2 separate regions of the Homo sapiens genome follow, and region 2 is linked to region 1. Evidence: fine-mapped expression QTL. A gene starts in region 1. The other region holds a variant in brackets. All regions are shown on one strand. Distances are from middle to middle. Region 1 holds the start of ARHGAP35 (Rho GTPase activating protein 35). Region 2 overlaps ARHGAP35 (Rho GTPase activating protein 35).

The links.
Region 2: its variant is fine-mapped to the expression of ARHGAP35 in whole blood (TOPMed, PIP above 0.99).

The regions. Positions count from the first base shown.
Region 1 is chr19:46,856,227-46,864,554 of GRCh38, reverse strand. ARHGAP35 (Rho GTPase activating protein 35) reads right to left here and starts at 3,558. Exons shown (of 7, transcript NM_004491.5): 1 at 3,346-3,558. LOC124904791 (translation initiation factor IF-2-like) reads left to right here. Exons shown (of 4, transcript XM_047439803.1): 2 at 1,347-1,433; 3 at 3,235-3,498; 4 at 3,659-4,966. The coding sequence ends at 4,330. RefSeq lists a silencer at 3,250-3,789 and enhancers at 7,337-8,273, 8,274-8,328.
Region 2 is chr19:46,958,553-46,966,880 of GRCh38, reverse strand. The region is part of intron 3 of ARHGAP35 (Rho GTPase activating protein 35); the gene reads right to left. Among named protein-coding and RNA genes, the nearest start is that of NPAS1, 57 kb to the left of the region's middle. RefSeq lists an enhancer at 2,770-3,969. The variant G/C (reference allele first, on the strand shown) is at 3,300.

The DNA.
Region 1 (8,328 bases):
TTCAAATGTGTCCACACAGAATTATTTCTAAATAAGTACTAAAATAAACAAAGTTTGATCATAGCACAGTTAAGAAAGTCCTTCCAGTAAATGCTCCTTCACAGTTGGATGGCTACTTTAATATACAATTGCCCTAGGCCACAGCAGGGAAAAAAATCAGGCTTTTGATTTACTTAAGAAATAAAATAAATAAACCTAGAACATGCAAAAGATCCCCTTTCCCAAGTTAAGGAAGGAAAATGGTTGGACAGATTTTCTGTAAAAACCACCTCTACCCCTGAATGAACTAAATACCCCCCCACAACCATAGAGTCATTAAAGAAAATCGCTCAGGAATGGTAGCCAAGACGCATTTCTCAGATAATAAGACTAAAAATCCAATCACATCCGCCAGTTCCTGGCACCCCTTTCTAACTCTACCCAATCAGGTCACTCAAAAAGCTTAAGGAATGTCAGGGCCCACCCACACACCCCTTGTACGGCAGGCAAAGAGCCCCAGAATCTAGCATGGATCTGCCCAGAGGCACTCAGCTCCTGTGGCAGGGAGTGCCTGCAATACCAGAGGGCAGAAATCTGAGTGACATTTGGCACTCTCTCTTTCAACAAACAACCGCAAAGTGCTTTCCAAACCCAAGCCCTCACCATTTTGAAGACCAGGAAGCTGGAGCCTTTCCCGGGGCAAAGATGAAAAAGAAATAAGCCCACCTTCCCCATCCCCTCCCACAAGGTCACACTGCAAACCAGAGGCCATTAGGGAAGGCAATACTGTAGCTTCCCTAGGTCCAACTGTGGCCATAACCCCTGGTGGGATCGGGATAATTTGAGAACTGGCATTTCCCCAGCTAGAGGTAAAACTATATATTGAAATAACTTGTTAGCTGGGGGGGAGGGGCGAAGGCGGGGGGGAAGGGAAGGACACTCCTAGGGTTGCTGGCTTAGAGGTGGAAGGGGAGAGAGGGTACTCTATGCAATGGCTCAGAGAAGGAAGGAGGGAAAGTGAGAAAGAGAATAAAGATCTGCGAGCAGCTGCAATCCCCTTTTCCAAAGGACACAAAGCTGCAAAGCCCAGAGATAGGAAGGGAGAGAGCAAACAGCAGAGGAAAGAAAATGGGGCAATGGAAAAAGATCTACCTCCCCCCACACTACTAACCTAGTGGAAGTGGGGGAAATGGGGGAGACACTCCCAGACTCCAGAGAGTAGTAACAATCAACCAACCCCCACCTATTTACCCAGATCTCTCAGGATCCCTGGGGAGAGAACCCTCAGGGTTAGGGCGCAGAGAGAGAATCTGCAGTCTCAGAGCCTGGAGAGCCTAAGGCCCAATCCAGCCCCTTTGCCTCTGCAGCAGAGGGATGGAAAGAAAGATATGCCTGAAAGGGGAAGTGCTCAATGGGGAATGGGTGGGCCACGGGTGGTGAGCTGCGAGGAGCAGGTCTGATAGGAACTAAATGGGAAGAGAAGGAGCCTGGCAGGATACAAGGGGAAGGAAAAAAAAAAAAAAGGTGAGGAAGGAAACAAGTCCAAGAGGAACAGAATTGGGAGAGGGATATCAAAGGGGAGTGATAATCTATCACAGCACTGAGGCAGCTCCAAGAGGAAGGTGGGGGGGAATACATAGGAAAGAATGATTAAGAAGACATCGTAATGTCACAATTGGAGTGAGAACTCCAAAAGAAGACAAGAGGCAGAACAGTGGAGGGTGGGCAAATAAAGCAGAGTGAAGGGTGAGGGCTGAATCAAAATGGTGGGGGGAAGAGACTGTCATGTGGAAAACTTAAAAGACTCGGGAGGGAACAGAGAGGGGACACAGTGACAAGAACCCCAGTGTTAAAGGACCGCTCCAAGAAAGGACGGCAATACAGAAGTTAAAAACCGGTCTAAAAATATGCGGGCAAGTGGACAGCTCCGAAGGAGCCGAGCTGGGGAGGGAAACACTAAATAAAGAGGATGGAGCAGAATTGAAAAAAACGAGAAGAAAGTGTAGGTACAAAATGGATCTAGGGGCAGGTCTGTGAGATGCAGAACAGGAAGGGGATGGGTGACCAGCCCGGGAGGTATCAGAGGTATAGTGAGGTTAAAGGGCATGTCTAAGGGCTAAAACGGGGAGGAGAGGAATTGGAGCAAAGAGGGGACAGGAAGCAGTTTTCAGGCAGAGAACTGAAGGAGAGACAGGCCAAAGAAAGGAGAAGCAAATGAATGCAGTAGCTCAGAGGAGTGCCAAAAAGGAGGTGGGGAAGAGAGGAAACCTCCAAGAGAACACGGGCTGAAACTGAAGGCAGTCTGAGTTAGGGATACATCATTTAAGTGAATAGCAGAAATGGGAGACCTGCAGAGTCAGAGAAGGGGGAGGAGGCTGCTTCCCGGGAAGGCAGAGTCAGAAGCAAGCAGGTGAGGGGAGCGCAGCAAGATCTGAGGTCGGGCAAGGGGCAGAGCTGAGAGGCAGAAAGGTCTGGAAGAGAGGAAAGGGTCTGAATGGTAAACGGGAACAAGAGCTGAGAAGGGGAACAGGCAAGCACGGTGCAGCCAAGTCCGAGGGGATCAGGGGAATGAGCTGGGGCACGGAAGGGTCAGAAAGCCAGCCGAGGGGCATCCCGGGGTGCAGCAGGCTCTGCGAGAGGGCAGACAAGAAATGCGGGTAGTAGGGCCCACGAGGGAACGGGATTCAGTCCAAGGGGAAGACCTGGGGCAGCAGTGCCTGGCCGAACAGGGGTCTCAGATGGATCTCCAAAGGGTTGGAACCGCAGGTCCTAAAGGGACAGCTCCCAGGGTGCAACAGATTCTGAGACAGGAATAATAGCACAGAAGGTAGGTCAAAGAAGGGGCCGAGGACAGATCTGAAGGGTGGTGAGAGCAGAATCGAGAAGAGGGAGAAGCGTCACGGATCTCAAAAGTGGGAGCCACAATTAAGAGATGCAGAATGGTCAATGAGGAGAAGATGGGTCCCAGGAGCACTGCAGAGCCCGGGAGGAGCGAAGGGCATTATGGAGGGGTGGAAGGGGGAAGGGGGGCGCAGAATTGGGAACCGGTTGGCTGAAGTCGGGTAGGCTCCGAGGCAGACACCGAGATCCCAACGGGTCGGGGATGGGGGCGGCGGCGGGGACAGCAGGGCTGGGGCGGGCAGGGGCAGGTCCAAAGGGCAGGAGGGCCCCACGGGCCGGGCCGACGCGCGAAGCGACGGGGACGGCGGGGCCCGGGGGGCTGGGGGGGGGGCCGCTCCTCCCCTCCCCCTCCAGCTCCTCCATTGTTCGCGGGCTCCGGGCCCCGCCGTCCCCGCCTCCCCCTGGACCCCGCAGCGGGGCGGCGCCCGGCCTCGCCGCCCGGGGCCCGTGAGCTCGCGCACTCACCAGCTGGGCGCCCTCAGCGCGGCCCCGGCCTCCAAAATCCCGGCAGCAACGACGGGGGCCCCGGCGCCATGTTCCCCTGCTCCTAGTCCAGCGGCGGCTGAGGCGGCGGCGGCGGCTCCGGCGGCGGGGGGCCGGGCGGACCCTCCCTCGCGGGTTCCCTCCTCCGCCTCCTCCACCTCCTCCTGCCGCCGCGCCGCGGCTCTCCCTCGGGGCGGGGGGCGGGGAGGGGAAGGGGGGAGGGGCGGCAACCAGGGGGAGGGCGGACCAGCCTCGCTCACTCCCTCCCTCCCTCCCTCCCTCGCAATGGCGGCAGCGGCGGCACCTCCTTCCTGCGACGGCCGCTCCCGCGCGCGCGCCCCCTCGCTACTGCGCGTGCGCGGCGCGTGGACCGTTGCAGGGGTATAACGGCCCCTGGGCGCGCGCCGCGAAGGGACAACCAGCGAGGCAGTGGGAAGAGGTCAGAGCGCGTGCGCACCCGAGGGGCTTACTGCCACAGCCGCTGCCTGAGGTTAGGAACGGCCGCGGACGGTGCAGTGCGCGTGCGCCCCCGAAAATGCCGCTATTGCGGCGGCCGCCGTCGCGACTGAGCGCGAGGCGACTTGCAAACGAGCAGAGGGAGCGGGATGGGCGAGCGCGCGTGCGCGGGGGGCTGCCAGCCGGCGCAGCTGCTGGCGCAGGGCGGAGGGAGTGGTCCGCAGGAGCTGCGCGCGCGTCTCAAGCAGCCGATCTACTGCCTCGCGCTGGCTCCTGGAGAAAGCCGAAGGAGAGAGGCATGGCCCGGTTTTGGGGGTGGGGGGCGAAGGGCGCGATCCCGCTCGCGCGGGACCTGACCAGCCAATGGGAAGCAATGGGAGGTGGGTTTGCCGCGCGAGCCGCAGCCGCCGGGATAACGGAGGAGGCCAGAAGGAGCGACGTAACGTGGGGCGGTGGGGCGGGGCTGAGAAGGAGGGAGCGCACCAGAGAGGGAGTTGATTGGAGGATATGAGGAGGCGTGGCCCGCCTCAGCCCAATCCGAGCCCCGCAATTCGTCGTCCCGGAAGAAGAGGCGGGGCTGGAGAGCGCGTGCTCTTTCTCCTGGCTGTGAAGAAAATCTGCAGCCAACGCGCGCGTCCATGCAACTTGTTTTTGGTTCTGTGAACGACTGATCCCCAGGAGAGGGAAGACGGCCTGGTCCTGTGTGCAGCCCAAGCCTGTCACTTAGCATTGTGCAAATGGCTACAAATCGAATGTCAATTAGGGCGCCTGAAGGGAAAAGAGTAGTGATGGGAGAGGGCACCGCTGTAACCCTTGACTCCTCTGAACTGAGGAGGTGTTCCTCTGGGACTCCTCCGGAAGTACAGATCGTGGAAGATGAGCTTCCCGGGCGCCGAGCCAATATTTGTGGAATGCATGAAGAAAGGCTGTTTCCTATTACATTTGGCATTTCTGCCATCAGTCTCTTCATCTATAAAATGGGATAATAATCGTACCTCTCTCGTAGGGCTGCTGTGAAAATTAAATAGATTATATTTTGCAAAGCTCTTGAAATCATGCATTGCATACATAGTAAGCGCTCTGTAAGCGTTGATAAATAAAATTACAGGGGCTTGTTTATTCCATTAATAAAGATTTTTATATTAAAGGATGTTTCCATTGACTTTTTTTTTTTTTTTAATGTAGCACTTTTAGGGCCAGGCGCGGTGGCTCATGCCTGTAATCCCAGCACTTTGGGAGGCCGAGGCGGGCGGATCACTTGCGGTCAGGAGTTCGAGACCAGCCTGGCCAACATGAAACCCCGTCTCTACTAAAAATACAAAAATGAGGTGGGCGTCGTGACGGGCGCCTGTAATCCCAGCTACTCGGGAGGCTGAGGCAGGAGAATCGCTTGAACTCGGGAAGCGGAGGTTGCAGTGAGCAGAGATAGCACTGGACTCCAGCCTGGGCAGCAGAGGGAAACTCCGTCTCAAAAAAAAAAAAAAAAAGGCACTTTTAATGCATTCAGTCTGATTTTTAGATGTTAGTGGCTTGAAACAACAACAACTTTTCTTTAAGCACTGCGGGGCTGCCAAATCGAGTGCGTGGACTGTCATTACAAACCGTGATGTGTAAGGGACTTTTGAGATTACTTGAGGAGACACAGGAAAGACAAGGTGGGGGGCAGTGAATTCCTGATACCTGTATTTCAAATTAATGTCTTTACAACGCCTATGCAGTGTTCCGAGTCTTTTCAATCTTAAATTTGTGAGCTGGCAGCATCTGGAGAACAAGGACGCTTGGGCTCACTCTGGATCCCCCAAACCCCTTGGGAGCCCATCAGCTCTGATTTACCCTTCAACTCTCAGCTTGAAGTCACCTTCTCAGGGTAGTCTCCCAGATTTGGCCTGATCCCTCGTTCTTTAATAATAAAAATGAGTACTTCGTGCCAAGCAACAGTCTTTTTTTATTTTTATTTTTTATTTTGAGGCAGAGTCTGGGATTACCAGCGTGCGCCCCGCTAATTTTTGTTTTTGTTGTTTTCTCAAGACAGAGTCTTGTTCTGTCACCCAGGCTGGAGTGCAGTGGTGTGATCTCGGCTCACTGCAACCTCCACCTCCCGGGTTCAAGTGATTCTTCTGCCTCAGCCTCCTGAGTAGCTGGGACTACAGGCGCCACATCTGGCTAATTTTTGTATTTTTAGTAGGGACAGGGTTTCACCTGTTCGGGCCAGGCTGGTCCCGAAGTCCTGGCCTCAAGCCATCCACCCACCTCAGCCTCCCAAAGTGCTGGGATTACAGGTGTGAGCCACTGAGCCTGGCCGCAACAGTCTTTTTTGTTTGTTTGTTTGTTTGTTTTTTGAGATGGAGTCTCACTCTGGCATCCAAGTTGGAGTGCAATGGCGAGGTCTCGGCTCACTGCAACCTCCACCTCCCAGGTTCAAGCGATTTTTCTGCCTCAGCCTCCCGAGTAGCTGGGACTACAGGTGTGTGCCACCACACCTGGCAAATTTTTGTATTTTTAATAGAGACGGGGTTTCACTATGTTGGCCAGGCTAGTCAACATTCTTTTTATTTGTTTTTTTTTGTGTGTGGATTTTTTTTTTTTTTTTGAGACAGGGTCTTGCTCTGTTGCCCAGGCTGGAGTGCAGTGGACCAGTCATGGCTCACTGCAGCCTCAACTTCCTGGGCTCAAGCAATCCTCCTGAGCAGCTGGAACTACATGCTCTCACCATGACACTTGGCCAATTTTTTTTTTCTTTTGGTAGAGATGGAGTCTTGCTATGTTGCCCAGGGTGGTCTCAAACTCCTGGCCTCAAGCAGGCCTCCTGCCTCAGCCTCCCAAAACGCTGAGTTTACAGGCATGAGCCGCCATGCCTGGACATGCCAGGCAGCAGTCTAAAAGCACTTTAGACCCATTAACTCACTGAATCCTCACAACAACCTTATGAGTAAGTTATAAGGTACAGAAAAGTTACACAGCTAGTAAGCAGCAGGTTTGAGACACAAACCCAGACAATTGGGTCACGTTGCTACACGTAGCATTTCTTCAGGGTTCAAGGTTTGCAGTTCTGTGTTGGATCCCAGCACTTTAGGAGACTGAGGAAGAAAGATCACTTAAGCCCAGGAGTTCAAGGCTTCAGTGAGCTATGATTGTGCCACTGCACTCCAGCCTGGGCCACAAGGCCAGACCCTGTCTCTAAAAAGATTAAATGAAGTTCTGTGTTGGTATCACCATTTTATGTGTGAGCCCTCTGAAGGCAGGGGACCCTGGCTAGTTCCAAAGTCTGGCCAATGACCCACAATTAAAACTTGTTAATAAATAAAAGTGAATGAGTCGGCCAGGCACAGTAGCTCAGGCCTGTAATCCCAGCACTTTGGAAGGCTGAGGCGGGTGGATTGCTTGAGGCCAGGAGTTCGAAACCAGCCTGGACAACGTGGCGAAACCCTGTCTCTACAAAACGTACAAAAATCAGCCAGGCATAGTGGTGCACGCCTATAATCCCAGCTACTAGGGAGGCTGAAGCAGGAGAATCGCTTGAACCCGGGAGATGGAGATTGCAGTGAGCCAAAATCGCACCACTGCACTCCAGCCTGGGTGACAGAAGGAGACTCCGTCTCAAAAAAAAAAAAAAAAAAAAAAAAAAAAATCCAATGCTAAACAAGGGGGTGGTAGGCACTGGGGACATGGTAGCCAGAGACTACATGGTTGTCCTTCTAGCCTTCTTTGAGATGCTAGCTCAGATGTCCCCTCTTCCAGGAGGCCTTCTCTGATGCAACAGGCTGGGTCAGCTGCTCCTTCCAAGCTCCCACAGTCCCTTTAGGTCTCCCGTCCAAGCCCTGGCCACCTTGGGTGGTCCATATCTGGTGATAGGTCTTTCCCATCGGACTGCAAGGCCCCTGAGGGCAGGGCCAGGGCTGTTTCAGTCATCGTCGATGTCCCTAGCACGGATCCAGGCACAAGGCAGGGGCCCAGGCATTGTTTTACTGCATGAACGGAACCATCAAGGGGTGCATTCCCAGCTCTGCAATTTTTTCCAGTGCGCAAGAGGGCGGATAGTAGTTGAGCAAGCCAACCACAGGAAGCGGGCTTCCCTGGGGGCAGCCGCCTCCGCGCACCCGGCTAGCCTCCACTCCAGGATAAATAAACAAACGAGTAAACAATTAACCGACCGAGAGAAGTGCCGACTGCCGGCTTGGGCCGCTGTCAAGATTTCCCAAGCATCGGCCTACGGGCCGAATGGCTGGAGGTCACATTAACGGGAGAGCCGCTGGTGTTGGTTGATAAGAGGCGGGCGTGGGATTCTGGACCTGTATTGGAAACCTGCACAGGCAGAAAAATTCACAAAAGGATTTTGTAAAGAGGGTGGGACTCTGGGGTATACACTCTATTCATTCCTAAGAGTCTGAAAGAATCAGAGAGGGTGGGGACCAGGTCTGCGTGTGACGGAGGAGTCAGTGAGCCCACAGCGCCGCCTGCAAACCGAACAGGGGAAGCTGCAGCTGGAGGATTGCCGCGGGGGCTGGCAGA
Region 2 (8,328 bases), 100 kb before region 1:
ACCCCTGCAGCCTCATGGGCACTGGGCAAACTGACTGTGGAGAGATATTAATTTTCTCTTTGATGTGTGTAGTCATCTCCAATGGGGGCTGGCCTCAGGCTTCCTCAGGATCTTCTTGGCTTCAAAAATGCCTTGTACTTGATAGGCCAGAAATATTATTATAGACTAACTTATTACACTCACTCCATCCCATCAACCCTAGAAAGTAAGACAAACAACTGTAATGACTACACAAGAAAAAAGAGAAGAGGAAAAAAAGCAGAGAGGTGTCATGACTTTGAAATGAAGGACCATACATTACAAAGATGTTCAATTGCATTTTTTGGGGGTGGGGGACAGGGTCTTGCTTTGTTACTCAGGCTGGAGTACAGTGGTGCAACCATGGCTCACCATGGCTTCAACCTCCCACGCTCAAGTGATTCTCCTGCCTCAGTCTCCCAATCAGCCAGGACTACAGGTATGCACCAGCACACCTGATTAATTTTCTAATTTTTTGTAGAGACAGAGTCTCGATATGTTGCTGGGGCTGGTCTTGAATTCCTGGGTTCAAGCAATCCTCCTGCTTCAGCTTCCCAAAGTGTTGGGATTACAGGCATGAGCCACTGCGCCTGGCCTCAATTGCATTTTGTATATAAATAAAATAAAAATCTCAATGGAATGGTTAAAATGCACTAAATAAAATAATACCAAAAATCGTATAAATATTTTGCAAAGAAAGAAAAAAATACCAAAAATATCTTTAAAAGATCCAATAGAAAATATCACATATGGCAAACTGGAAGGTTGCAAAGTAGACCCCAGGGGCTGCTGGATGTACAAGTGAAGCTAGGTATTGAGGCTGGGGAGACTGAGGGTTTCCAACTAATACTTCCTTTATTGACTTGGTTTTGACCAGAGAAGACTAAGAGTCCTTCTAGGGGGCAATATGAACTATCTTATTCATATTTTAGCCTCCAGCATCTAATGGAACTGACACATAACAGGTGTTCAATTATTCTTTTAGGATTGTAAAAACTAAACATTGTGAGGCTAAAGAATATTCTGGCAAAGACAGCAATTATGGGAATGAAACATGGAGTTGAAAAAGATTAATCCAGGCCGAGTGCAGCAGTTCACGCCTGTAATCCCAGCACTTTGGGAGGCTGAGGCAGGAGAGTCACTTGAGCGCAGGAGTTGGAGATCAGCCTGGGCAACATGGCGAAACCCCATCTCTACAAAAAATACAAGAATTAGCTGAGCATGGTGGTGTGCACCTGAAGTTCCAGCTACTTGGGAGGCTGAGGTGGGAGGATTACTTGAGCCTGGGAGATCGAGGCTGCAATGAGCCATGACTGTGCCACGGCACACCAGCCTAGGTGACAAAGTGAGACCCTGTCTCAAAACAAACAAACAAACAAACAAACAAACAAACAAAAAACCCAAGAAAAAGACCCAGAGAAAAAGTTGAATTTTACCAGCTATTAAAGCACTTTTGAGAGTAAAAATTTAGGAAACATGATTTTGGTATAAAAACAAGAAAGTAAAATCAGTAAAACAAAAGAAATCTTAGAAAAGACTCTTTTTTTTTGAGATGAAGTCTCGCTCTTGTCCTCCAGGCTGGAGTGCAATGGCGCAATCTCGGCTCACTGCAACCTCTGCCTCCTGGGTTCCAGCGATTCTCCTGCTTCAGCCTCCTGAGTAGCTGGGATTACAGGCACCTGTCACCACGCCCGGCTAATTTTTGTATTTTTAGTAGAGACGGGGTTTCACCATGTTGGCCAGGCTGGTCTCAAACTCCTGACCTCAGGTGATCCGCCCGCCTCGGCCTCCCAAAGCGCTGGGATTACAGGCGTGAGCCACCGCGCCTGGCCTAAAAAGACTCAATTTTAAGAACTGAATATTTGATAAAGTAATTGTCACAAAATATAGGGGAAGGCTATCAAAAGGTAGTACTATGATAACTGAATAAACATATGAAGGGAAAGAAATCACTTTAGATCCATGCTCTGTATTTGGACAGGCTACCAAAGACCTACCAGGACTGTTCATTTCTGCAAGTTTTTAAGACTTTTATTCTCTCTCTGGGTCCATGTTGGCTTGTGCCCATTTCTTTTTTATCAAAGGATTCACATATTGACCTTATTACCCTGGTAGAACCCCCTTCCATAAGCTCCAATGAGCCACACCAGCCCTTCTGCTGAACTGAAACTGCCCTATCAAGCAAATATTATCCCACATTCAGAGGGTCAGCTGAAACCAGTTGAAAGTTGAGAATTATTTTTGTCAGTTTTTCAATGGGAGATTGGCTTATGGAGTAAAAGTAGACTTAAAGAATGATGCCACTGGCTGCGCATGCTGGCTCACACCTGTAATCCCACCACTTTAGGAGGCTGATGTGGGAGGATCACTTGAGCTCAGGAGTTCAAGACCAGCTTGGGCAACATGGTGAGACCCCATCTCTACGAAACATATTTTAAAAAGTTGCCAAGCTTGGTGGTGCATGCCTGTGGTCCCAGCTACTCGGGAGGATCACTTGAGCCCAAGCAGTCAAGGCTGCAGTGAGCCATGATCACGCCACTGCAGCGCTCCAGCCTGGGTGATAGAGCAAGATCCTGTCTCAAAAAGAAAAGAAAAGAAAAAAAAAAGTCACCTGCTCAGGTTCACAAAATAAATTACAAATTTAAATTTAAATTTATAATAATCTTGTCTGGGCATATAATAATGACTCATATAATAATGAGTCCGGTGGCTCATGCCTGTAATCCCAGCACTTCAGGAGGCTGAGGCGGGTGGATCACCTGAGGTCAGGAGTTCAAGACCAGCTTGGCCAACATGGTGAAACCCCGTCTCTACTAAAAATATAAAAATTAGCTGGGGGTAGTAGCACTCACCTGTAATCCCAGCTACTCGGGAGGCTGAGGCAGGAGAATTGCTTGAACCTGGGAGGCGGACATTGCAGTGAGCCGAGATTGCGCCACTGCACTCCAGCCTGGGTGACAGAGCAAGATTCCATCTCAAAAAATAAAAAAATTAAAAATAAATAAATAAAATAATCTCATCTCTGATGATACAGCATGGCATCTGCTGGCATTTGTGAAGCAGTATCACAGCAATAAACCATTATTAAAGCATACTACGTGGAGGACACCGATTAAGTCCCATGGGAGATAGAAAAATTAACAGCACTGTCGTGTCCTCTTTCGAGGTGACAGGGAGACAAGATAAAGGTGAAAAGTTAGATCACACTTAGATATAATAAAAGATAAGCTAAAAGTTAGGACCAGATGACTGCTAAACAGATGACACAGACAACTGGCATG[G/C]ATGTCCACAGGAGGGACGGCAAAGTCAGCTCCAACAAGGATGGTCATCAGAGAAGAGGCACGCTTTCAGATGGGGCTTGGAAAATAGATGGGATTTGCTGAGGCCAGTGTGGAGGAGTGAAGGCACAGAGGAAGGGAAGCAAAAGAGAAGAAAGTGATGAAAGTGAGGAGGGGCTTGAACTGAGGTCCCACATGGGAATTTTCTGCTGAGAGAGTGCCCACTTTTAAGGCACCCCACGCAGATGTGCTACCAGAACAAGCAGTCAACAGTGTGTGCGTGCCAGCAAGCACTCAGAACACAGCATAATTTCCAATCAAAGACAACAGTTTTTGACCACAGGAAGTGCTCAAAATCATACTATGCCCTGAGTCACATAAGGTTTCCAGATAGAACCCCCACAGAAAAGTAAAGGAATCCTGGACGCTGAGAATCTCCCATCAGGGTAGCACACCATGCAAACAATTCCTTGGAGTTCACCACTCACCACCCTCCCAAAGCAGGCCCAGGAAGAATGAAACAGAAATCTGCTTTATTTTTATTCTGAGCAAATAATTTTACTAAAAAAGATAAAATTTTCTGAAATAGGCTAGCCTGAAAAGGAGTAGGAAGCAGCAGCAAAACGGGAAGGATGAGGATGCAGTGAGAAAAAGGACTAAGAATGAGAGGTTGAGGCCGGGCGCAGTGGCTCATGCCTGCGATCCCAGCACTTTGGCCAAGTGCGGGCGGATCACCTGAGGTCAGGAGTTCGAGACCAGCCTGGCCAACATGGTAAAACCTCATCTCTACTAAAAATACAAAAATTAGCTGGGTGTGGTGGTGCATGCCTGTAATCCCATCTACGTGGGAGGCTGAGGCAGGAGGCAGGAGAATCACTGGAACCTGGGAGGTGGAGGTTGCAATGAGCCAAGATCGCACCACTGCACTCCAGCCTGGGCGACAAAGCGAGACTCCATTTCAAAAACAAAAACAAAAGAATGAGAGGTTGGCCAGAGTAACAGAGAACCGAACTTTTCTCCATCAGAAACTTCCCCACCCTTGTCTACTGCCTGGGTGTGAGGCCTTGTGCTAGAATTTCTGCCCTAAACACAAGAGCATAAGCTATAAAACCAGAAATTCCATTTGACACATGAGCTGGCTCTGAGACTCTCCATTATTCTTCAGGGGCCTCAAGGTGAGAGACATTGTCACACATTCACGGCCTTTCCAAGTGCCAACAACATCACTAGCCAGTCTTGGCAAGGCAGGCCAGGGCTCTGGCTTCTTGCACAGGCTCTCAGAAACCCTGAGCTGCTCATATGGCAAGACAGTGGGGAATCTCTTCAACTCCTGGGTTCTTATCTTTAAAATGGAAGAGTTGGGACTAGAGGCTTTTTTAAAAAACAAACTCTTATTGAAAGATAATACACATTCAGAAGTTTACAGAGAAGTGTACGGTGATGGATTTTCACACAATGACCACACTTGTGTAAACAGCACCCACAGATCAAGACACAAAACATCCCAGCATTCCAGAAGCCTTTTGTGCCCTCTACCAGCCTCTACTCCCTCCCCAAGGATATCCACTATCCCAATCCTTTCCTTCCCTTCCCTTCCTTCCTTCCTTTCTCTCTTTCTCTTTCTCTCTTTTTCTTTCTTTCTCTCTCTCTTTTTTGAGGCAGGATCTCACTCTGTCACACAGGCTGGAGGGCAGTGGCGCAATCTCGGCTCACTGCAACTTCTGCCTCCCCGATTCAAGCAATTCTCCTGCCTCAGCCTCCCGAGTAGTTGGGACTACAGGTGTGCGCCACCACGCCCGGCTAATTTTTGTATTTTTAGTAGAGATGGGGTTTCACCATATTAGCCAGGCTGGTCTTGAACTCCTGACCTCAGGTGATCCACCTGCCTCGGCCTCCTAAAGTTCTGGGATTACAGGCATGAGCCACCGCACCTGGCCACTATCCTGATTTCTAATAGCATGGGTAGGTTTTCTGGTTTTCTACTTTATAGAAATAAAATATACAGTATACATTCTTTTATTTCTGGCTTCTTTTATTCAACGCGTCCATGAGATTCACCCATGTTGTGGAGAGGTGGACTGGATGACTGTAAGGCAGCTGCAATTCTAACATATTACCATTTTACCACTACCCTAATATACAGCTGATGGAGGTGCTATACTGGAGAGCATTTTGGCAATATTGTTTAAAATATAAAATGTACCTATCCTTCCATCTGCCTATTCCATTCTGAGGTATCTATCCTATAGATGTATTTGCATGCACATGTATGTGTGTGTATACATGTGTCTACACATGTATAGATAGCCAATGCAGTATTATCTATATTAACAAAAGACTGAGATGATGTCTTTTAACAGGAGACTGATTAAACAAATTATTATACAGTTGGCTGGGCGCGGCAGCTCATGCCTGTAATCCCAGCACTTTGGGAGGCTGAGGCGGGCGGATCACCTGAGGTCAGGAGTTCGAGACCAGCCTGGCCAACATGGTGAAACCCCATCTCTACTAAAAATACAAAAATTAGCTGGGCGTGGTGGCAGGCGCCGGTAATCCCAGCTACTCAGGAGGCTGGGGCAGGAGAATCGCTTGAACTCGGGAGGTGGAGGTTGCAGTGAGCCGAGATTGCGCCACTGCACTCCAGCCTAGGGGACAGGAGTGAGACTTCGTCTCTGAAAAAAAAAAAAAAAAGCCAAAGAAATACTCTCCAGTCAAGTTTTTCAAAGGCTGATTTATGCCCATCATTATAGGAAAATGTATGCAATACATTTTTAGGTGGGAAAAAGCAAAGCATAGAACAGCACATTCAGCATGGCTCCATCTGTATAAAAAGCAGCCCAGCACATTATATCTATTATGTGTAGACACATATACAGAAAGCTCTGGAAGGTACAATTTAAACTCTTAATAGCAGGTAACTTTGAGAATGAGAAAATGACTTTACTTTTTACTTCTAACGATTCTACAATTTTTTTTAACAAAATACGTGTTCATTGCTAAATTACTTTTCACACAATACAGAAATACGTGGAATAAACAGTAAAAGCCCTATTTTTTTCTCCAATCTGTTCTCTAATAAGAAACTCTCTTCTCTGCATGTAGACCAAAGAATGAAAACCTATGAAATTCTTCATATACAAAAGACCTGAGGAAGCCACAGGAATCTAGGGGTCTATCACCTACCGTCTCATACATAAGCTTCCTGCCTGAATGACTATATTGGTCTACATTGGCTCCTGTGGCACCCACTGCCTAGTCATGGAGGAGACATGTATTCCTTTTGTTTCTTAGCAGAGTGATACGTATACCCAAGAAGATGGGTACCTAATGACAGATCTGACTGAAATGCTAATAAAATTACAGGCAGACAGAAACAGCCAGGGCTAATGGAGAGAAGGCGGAAAAGGGCATAAGCACACATTCCTCAACAAGATCGGGTTACTTTTTTCTTTCTTTCTTTTTTTTTTTTTTTTTGTGAGACAGGTCTTGCTCTGTTGCCCAGGCTGGAGTACAGTGGTGCAATCATAGCTCACTCTAACCTTGAATTCCTGGGATCAAGCAATCCTCCCACCTTAGCCTCCTGAGTAGCTGGGACTATAGACATGTGCCACAATGCATGGCTAACTAAAAAAAAAAAAAAAATTTTTTTTGTAGAGGCAAGGTCTTGCTATGTTGCCCAGGCTGGTCTCGAACTCCTAGGCTCAAGCGATCCTCTAGCCCCTCTGCCTCCCAGCATGCTGGGATTACAGGCTGGAGCCACCACACTCGCACCTGGCTTCGAGTTACCTTTAAATGGCACAAAAGGAGCAGTTTCTAAAACAATGGTAGTGAGGAAGTCATCATCAGTAGACAAAATATAAAGACCATTTAAAAAAGGAGGTTTTTGGGTGGGTGCAGTGGCTCACGCCTGTAATCCCAGCACTTTGGGAGGCTGAGGCGGGTGGATCACCCGAGGTCAGGAGTTTGAGACCAGCCTGGCCAACATGGTGAAACCCTGTCTTTACTAAAAATACAAAAATCAGCTGGGCGTAGTAGCGGGTGCCTGTAATCCCAGCTACTTGGGAGGCTGAAGGAGGAGAATTGCTTGAACCCAGGAGGCCAAGGTTGCAAGTGAGCAGAGATCCTGTCATTGCACTCCAGCCTGGGTGACAAGAGTGAAACTCTTGTCTCAAAAAAATAAAAATAAAAATAATAAAATAAAATAAAAATAAATAAAAAAAGGAGATTTTTGGCTAGGTGTGGTGGCTCACACCTGTAATCCCAGCACTTTGGGAGGCCGAATCACTTGAGCACAGGAGTTTGAGACCAGCCTGGCAACATGGCAAAACCCCATCCTACAAAAAATACAAAAAAGTAGCCAGGTGTGGTGGTGCATGCCTGTAGCCCCTACCTGGGAGAATCACCCGAGCCCAGGAAGTCAAGGTTGCAGTGAGCTGTGAGATTGTGCCACTGCACTCTAGTCTGGGCAGTGAAGTAAAACCTTGTCTCAAATAAATAAATAAATTTTTTTTTAAAAAAGGAGATTTTCCAGAATGCTAAATTTATTTTACTTAACTGTACTTCGTTTAAAAACAGCAGAATAAAGATTTTACCCTTTTTCCTCTGGAGAATCACACAAAAGCAACCAGGAGAATGAGAAACAGAAATATCACCTATTTGACAAAACTGGAGACATCTGTGACCTCAATCCCCAATATATGAGTAAAAACGGCCAAATGCTGTAAAGGTCAAATGAGGGCGTGGGAAAGTGATGAAAGAGAATGCCTGTTGTTACAGATGTCAGAGAAGGCATGCAATTGCAGTTCTCAAAAGCAAATGCTTCACTACCAGGGTGCAAAACCATTGTTTCAAACAGTGGGAACTGGTTCAGGGACTCCTGACTGAGCCTTCCTCAGATCCCATCTGGTGTGCAGGATCATACATACAGGTCCAATGTGCAGGAAGCGGTCAATCAACGAGGTAGAGCAACAGAGAGCAACTGCCTGGAGCAGCTCTCCGATGGCCAGTTCCAGATGTCTGAGGAAAAAGCCTC